2 linked regions of the Homo sapiens genome follow. The protein of the gene in region 2 purifies or fractionates together with the protein of the main gene of each other region. This does not show direct contact. Each region holds a gene or a part of one and is shown on either strand. Other genes may lie near its edges.

Evidence for each region.
Region 1: the proteins of KAZN (region 2) and TVP23B fractionate together in Homo sapiens (co-fractionation; one large-scale study listed by BioGRID). This does not show direct contact.

What each region holds. Positions count from the first base shown.
Region 1 is NC_000017.11:18,787,628-18,791,445, forward strand, and holds part of TVP23B (Golgi apparatus membrane protein TVP23 homolog B), read left to right. Parts: intron 1-1,407; exon of another isoform or gene 1,408-1,424; intron 1,425-1,725; coding exon 1,726-1,808; intron 1,809-3,268; coding exon 3,269-3,413; intron 3,414-3,818.
Region 2 is NC_000001.11:14,601,643-14,605,460, reverse strand, and holds part of KAZN (kazrin), read right to left. Parts: intron 1-3,818. UniProt on the Homo sapiens protein: Component of the cornified envelope of keratinocytes. May be involved in the interplay between adherens junctions and desmosomes. The function in the nucleus is not known.

The sequences.
Region 1 (3,818 bases), on a different chromosome or scaffold from region 2:
ATGAGGAAGGGAAGAGTTTTCTGAGACAACATGTGAAAGGCAGGAGATGGGAGAGAGATTGTAGTGTTCTTAGAGACCATGTAGTAACAGTATTGCTTCAGTGCTCAACAGTGCTCAATGAAGACAGTGTCAGAAGCAAGTAGGGGGCATTAGATTCTGTGATCTTCTATGCTTTATGTGAAGGAGTTAAATTTTATCCTATACTTGTAGGGATGCCATTGAAAAATTTGAGCAGTAGAGTGACATGGTGTGATTTCCATATTGGGAGGATTGCTCTGGGTAATGTAAAGGAGAGGCTGGAATAGAGAGGGATAAAGGCAGGGAGGCTGGTGAGTGCCACTAGGAGAGGAACAGGATCAGGTTTGTTGTAGTTGAGGGGAATTGCAGTGAATTGAGGCGTGAACCACTCTTAGAAGCCTAAGGTTATGGGGCCGGGCATGGTGGCTCACGCCTGTAATCCCAGCAATGGGAGGCCGAGGCGGCTGGATCACAAGGTCATGAAATCTCCTGGTTAACACGGTGAAACCTGTCTCTACAAAAAAAAATACAAAAAATTAGCCAGGCATGGTGGCACGCGCCTGTAGTCCCAGCTACTTGGGAAGGTGAGGCAGGAGAATCACTTGAACCCAGGAGGCAGAGGTTGCAGTGAGTTGAGGCCACGCCACTGCACTCCAGCCTGAGCGACAGAGCAAGACTCCATCTCAAAAAAAAAAAAAAAAAAAGCCTAAGGTTGTAAAAGGAAGCAATGCTTTGGGAAGGTAGAGGATTGAAGGGGAGATTCAGGATCAGGGTTCTTAAAAAAATCTTTTTTTGCCTAATAAGTGGCCTTGAAGAAGTTTATATGCATATGCTGATTAGAAAGATTCAATAGAGGCCGGGCGTGGTGGCTCATGCCTGTAATCCCAGCACTTTGGGAGGCTGAGGCGGACAGATCACCTGAGGTCAGGAGTTCAAGACCAGCCTGGCCAACATGGTGAAACCCCGTCTCAACTAAAAATACGAAAATTAGCTGGGTGTGGTGGCACACGCCTGTAATCCCAACAACTTGGAAGGCTGAAGCAGGAGAATCGTTTGAACCCGGGAGGCGGAGGTTGCAGTGAGCCAAGATCGTGCCATTGCAGTCCAGCCTGGGTGATGAGCAAAACTCCATTTCAACAACAACAAAAAAGAAAGATCCAATAGATAGACTTGAAGATAGAAGAAAGTGTAAATACAGGGGAAAATGATGAAACAAATCCCCGAGGAGGCATGAAAAGAAGTTATTCTGAGCACAAATAATTGGTTTAGCCTTGGATAAGAAGAGGAGGAGTTGTGAGAAGGGGTCATGGAACTAAGGATGCAGTCAGATGATTTTGTGAAGGAGCCAGAAACCTTGAGATTATCCCCAGTAGCCTCGGCTTGCTCTGTGACTTGGGAGAGAACAGGTGAGGAGGACAGGTGTTAAGTTGTAGTAGCCTCATCTGCACCCTAGAGTTTTCTCAGATGGTGCAGCCTAGGGGCAGGGATGGAGGAGCTGAGACTTCGATTATTCTCTGGGTTTTTTGCCAGATGATTTGAGGAGGCGGGTGGAGGATCTGCATGTGTCCTTTTCCTAGGTTTTGAATTCCTGATGCTGTAACCACATTATTTTATCTTCTATTTTGATGAGTATGCAGCTTTGCATTGCAGTGGCTGTGTAAACACTGAATTTTGTTTTGCTTCTTGACCATTTATTTTTCCTACCAGGATAGTAATGATGACACTGAAGATGTTTCACTGTTTGATGCGGAAGAGGAGACGACTAATAGACCAAGAAAAGCCAAAATCAGGTAGGAGGAGAGAAGTTGCATGAGCTGTGTTAGTGTCCAGTGCTGTTCTGTATGTATGTCAGTGCTAGCTGATGGGAGTCAAGGCAGAGTTGTTTCAATGTGCTTGTGAATACTGCATGTTGCTAATTTGACGTTTAGTGTACGACAAAGATGACATTTCAGATTTTCTTGTGAATAATTGGCATACTTAATACTGAGTTTTAAAATCAGCAAATCCAATTATTTGAACACCTGTGTTTTTAATTCTGTGCTATTTTCCAAGAATGTACCATTTCTTTATATAGTTTCTATAGATACATTACATTTTGATTTATTGTGCACATTTCAAAATCACATAACATTTCTATTCTAAATTTAATTCTCTCTAAAGAAATTCACTTACTGAAAGCAAATTCTACTTGAACCCTGCTAAAATGCTGTCTTTTACTTTTCTTTCATCTTTCATGCCAGTCACAAAAGACCACATATTGTATGATTTCATTTATATGAAATGTCCAGAATAGGCAAATCTGTAGAGACAGAAGATAGATTAGCTGTTGCTAGAAGCTGAGGGGTTTGAAGGTAAATGGGGAATGACTGCCAGTGGGTACAAAGATTCTGTCTGGGGTAATGAAAAGTTGTAAAATTGGAGTGATGGTTGTACAAATCTGTGAATGTACTAAAAACCATTAGATTGTTTACCTTAAATAAGTAAATTGTATGATATGTGAATTATATCTCAAAAAAGCTATTAAAAAACAAGAAACAGGCTGGGCACGATGGCTCATGCCTGTAATCCCAGCACTTTGGGAGGCCGAGGCAGGTGGATCACGAGGTCAGGAGATTGAGATCATCCTGGCTAACATGGTGAAACCCCATCTCTACTAAAAATACAAAAAATTAGCCGGGCGTGGTGGCAGGCGCCTGTAGTCCCAGCTACTTGGGAGGCTGAGGCAGGACAATGGCGTGAACCCAGGAGGTGAAGTTTGCAGTGAGCCGAGATTGTGCCACCAAACTCCAGCCTGGGCGACGGAGCGAGACTCCGTCTCAAAAAAAAAAAAAAAAGAAAAGAAAGAAAGAAACAAACTACCTGATAACTTTGTCTTAATGTCTGAGTGATTTCTGAGGGCTAAGGAATTCTTTTGGTGTGATTTGAAAATAGGATTCAAATTCTAAGATACAGTTTCCTTATTTCTCCAAGAGAGATAAAATTCTTTATTATCTATTTTGTGAAAGTTTATATTCAATGAGGTGTTAAAGTCATCTGTGCATAGTGTATTTTCTGTAACTACAGGGCCTAGTCAAATAGTGGGGCTTAAGAAAAAGAGAGCTAGGAGGTTTGCTTCATCCTACTAAAGTCACCTCTTTTATTTTGACAAAACTCTTCACAGTTACACGATGGCTAAAACATTTTTCTCTACATTTGCTAGTACCTGTAGTAAAATGTAATTGCATTTCTTTCATTGTGTTTTGGTTTTCAGACATCCAGTAGCATCGTTTTTCCACTTATTCTTTCGAGTCAGTGCAATCATCGTCTATCTTCTCTGTGGGTTGCTCAGCAGCAGCTTTATTACCTGTATGGTGACAATTATCTTGTTGTTGTCGTGTGACTTTTGGGCAGTGAAGGTAATTTTGATTGTTTTTATTTTAAAATTATATTTAATATGAAAATGATGTATAAAAATATGAGTTAGCATTTTGCATTATTGTTAATCTTTTGTTACTTCAAACCTCATCTGTGTTGAAGTGCTAGATATATCAAATTGCATGTAGTTTTTTTTTTTTTTTTTTTTTTTTTCATTTTTTCCCTTTGACAATACAAGATGAGACATGCAGGTTACTGTGCTGCTGATTTTTCTGTGCCATATTCTAACCTACATCAGCTTTAAAGTCAAATAAACAAACAAAAGTGACTAGCAACCATAGACCCTACAATGTTGCTTCTAATCCATACCATGGGTTTTGCTTCAGGCTTACCTGTAGGTGTGTTGTATATAATTTCTAGATAAGGCCCCAGTGTAGTTTGTCCAC
Region 2 (3,818 bases):
TTACGTTATCATAAGGCTTCCGGTCAATAGTAGGCTAGTAGGAGTTAAGTGTTGGGGGAGTCAAAAGTTATAGACAGATTTTTTACTGTGCTGGGTGGGGGCCAGCTATAGTTGTCACCTCGCTGGCCTCAGGATTCAATAATGCATGTTAAGCGCTTGCCAGGGAAGTTGATATATTGTAAGTGCATATTATTATTTATTAAAAAGTTTGACCAAAGCAATGAAACCAGTTCTCATTTACTGCTACATTAAACTATTCACCTTGACCAAAGAGAAAGAAACTACAGGCTTCAAGATGGTCCCAGAATCCCCAGCGTCTTGTGGCATGCCCAAAAGGTAAGTTCTGAGAATAATAATAGTGAGGTATGCAAAGATGAGTGGAGAATATCAGCTTCTTTAAAAGGGGCGCTCTGTTCTTAATGACTCATTACTTCACACAATCTGTAGAGCAGAGGTAATATTGGGAATGGAAGGCCTTTACATCCCCACAAAGGTAACATAGCGCTTGCTGTGGTGGAAGAGGACAGAGGAGAAGGGAGCTGGGCAGGACACCTCCTCTCCCCAACTTCTCTCCCCTCTCCAGCCTGACTGGAGAAGTGGGCAGAGGCCCTGGGGCTCTTTGCTTGCAGGACTGCCTGTTCCAAGCTCCATCTGAGCTCCTGTGCTGAGGTCTCAATTCATCAGAAAGTAAAGGGGCAGGGACCTTTCAGAAGCCTGACCCAAGGGTCTGACATGACCCAGCCAACAAAGCCCGCAGAATAAATTTAGCCCCAATGATCTTGTACCACACAGCAGCCACCTGCTCAAACAGTTGTTCTTGCCAAACTCATTAAAACTATGTTCAGCTTCTTTCATGTTTCCAGCAGCCTAGGACTCCAAGGGGGTAGCAGGAGTGCCCACAGAGCACAACCTCGCCTCCACCACTTGGATCAAGGTTGCATCAAACAAGCAAGAATGTTCTGGTGTCGTGCAACCACACGGGGAGGAAGAAGGCGTTCCTTTCCCTGATCTTCTTCCAGCTTCTCCACAACTGAGATGGGCCTGGCAGGGGATTTGGAGGGTGGTGGCAGGGGAACTGGAGAGTGGTGACAGGGGTCAGCAGAACTCTTAGCTGCTATGAATCGTCAGGTATGATCTGCCCCTGTGGATGGCCACCCTGTTGGCTTCGGGAAAGATGTCTTTTCCTAAATCATTCTTTCTGAACCCACTATGCCTGCAATTCAAGGCACCAAGGCAGTGCAATGACTGCTGGCGGTGACACTCCTGCCATATTTTGTGCTACTCACCCTAATATGCAGCCCAAACACTGAGACCTATTTCCACGTGCAACATCACTTAAAAACCCATTCTCTGGGCTCAGCAGGCAGAACCCCCTGATATATGGCAGGGGGTAAGAAGCCAGGGACCAATGTTCAGGCAAACCATTAAGGTATGGAAAGAACAGAGGAGTTCGTGTTGATTTCACTGTCCTTACCTACATAGCCCAGGAATGAATATATAGATTTATAATACATAAAGAAAACATGCAGTGAATGTGGCCAAATCCCAAGCTTGACCTTCTGGGCCCCATATGATATGCACGGTGAGCAGGCAAAGTTCCAATGAGCTCTTGCCACCTGCCAAGCCCATCTGCTACAAACACACTGGCAGCCAGGAAGTCACACATTATAACCCTATAGGATTCCTAAAAAGTGCCAACAGTCTTCTTGAGGAGTAAGAGGGTAAAGGGATGGAGAGAGGGCCTATCATGCCTTACCCTGGAAAGATATGTGACCAGGCTCCTGTTAGATGAGTCAGGTCAGCTCAGACTTCTGGGGTGCATCAAAGAGGTGTTGGAAAACCACTAAAAATCATGAAGTGCACAATGGAAGCATGAAATTAACCAGAATCAGAGACTTGACTTAAGAGGTCCTTTGAAGGCATTTTCCAAAGACAATGGAAAGATAGTAAATAATCCCCAATCAATAAGTAATTTCAACCACACTGTACTGATCTGTAAGTAATCTCTTTGTGACCACACATGACAATTTTCAGGGAGAAGACTGAATCCCCATCCCATGACAGGTTAGGAAAAGACACACTCTATTTTAACCCCTTGATCTGGCTGGAAAACCATGGCGCAGGCTACTTGCTGAGCTCTGTAACTTAGTGGCAAGCTAACAGAAGGCCCGAGATTCCCCAACATTTTGTTCCATCCTCTCTGCCATTTGAAAATTCTCTTTCTCAAAAAAGATAAAAGTCTACTTAGGAAAACAAGAGCAGAGGCAGAATGAATTGAGAAGGGGATGCCAAAAGACAGAACTTACTTTGCAAAGCGACAGTGTCTAGCGTCTCCACAGACTACTCACACATTCAATTCACTCCAAAGGTAATTTATACTTCACGAAAGAGTTTCCAGTGTTGTAGTAATGGTAGATGAGAGCTGTCAGGCCTTAAGTAACAGCCTATTTTAATGCCTGGAGAGAAAAATACAACTTGCACGCATTTATGGAAATGTACAAAGGTACAGGAAACCGACCCTTGCCTCCATCCCCTTCTAACAAATGCAGTAGGCAGGAAGTCCTCCACACCAAAGAAAGATGCTATCAGCACGTCCACTTGCATAGGAATACAAATACAATTATTTCTTTAACAAAGAAAACTAATGACAGTAGGCATACATCCTACTGGGCATTAAGTATTTTGTTATATACAGTTAACACCTATTTGAATTGGGTACCATAGCACTTAATTGTTTTGTTCTATGCATAGCAAAGCAACCAACTGAATCTAATATTAGTCATTCATCAGCTGATAAAACTTTTTCAGAGAAACAAACTGCTACATTTTCCCCTCAAAGAACAGCAAGCATTTTAAACACATTTTCCCAGAGATGTTATGCTGAGGAAAACAGCTTAGAAATGTTACTTTAAACAAATCCCTTCTCTGGCTACCAACAACAAGATGAATTGGAACAAATGCTTGGCTCTGTTCTTTCCAAGCCTCCTTCTGTCCACCTGTCAAAGGCTGCCGTGACCCCACCGACCCAAAAGGCAGCCTCTGGAGCTCTGAAATGTGTCACCCTGCACGGACGCCCTCTGCACTGTACGCCAGCATTCTCATTAAGGATTATCCAACTCAGTTGCAGGAGGGAGAGACAAGATGGGCTGGCTGCCAGGAATTCTTTCAACACAGATTCCGAAAGAATATCCTCCGAAGTGCCGAAAGCCCAGATTTTCAGCAGTTCACTTTCTAGATTCTGTTACATAGCAACCATGCCAGCTCACAGGGAGTACCAACCAAGTTAATATTTTGTTTAAATGACACACTGCATTAACCCGCTAGGAAAACCCAAATTTTCTTCATCAAAAGGGGATACCAACCTACCTACTGCCCGTTGTCATCCCTGGAACAAAACAGCCAATGATGGATTGATGAGTTTGCTTCATTCATTTAAAAAAAGAATTTAAAAAACAAAAACAAAAACATTTGAAAATGAATCTAACAGTCTCTTGGCAGAGGAAGCAAAAGGTGACTCTTTCCCAAAACCATTTGTACTAATATTGTTAAAGTTACATTAGCATGCATTTAATATGTGCATAATGCCCTTTCGTTAAAAGATGACTTACACGGTTGCATTTTGAAATGCAAAGATACTCGTTTTATTCAAAACCTTGATTTGAAAACTGATAACTCAATAGCACTTAAACACTCTTAGGGTCTGGGCCCATTGAACTGCACCAACACAGACAAAATGAAAACACAAGACTAATTTGGAAGAACAGTCAGAAACCCTGAGGAGCTGAGCCTCTGGGAGCCTCCCTGGAGGTGTATTACGA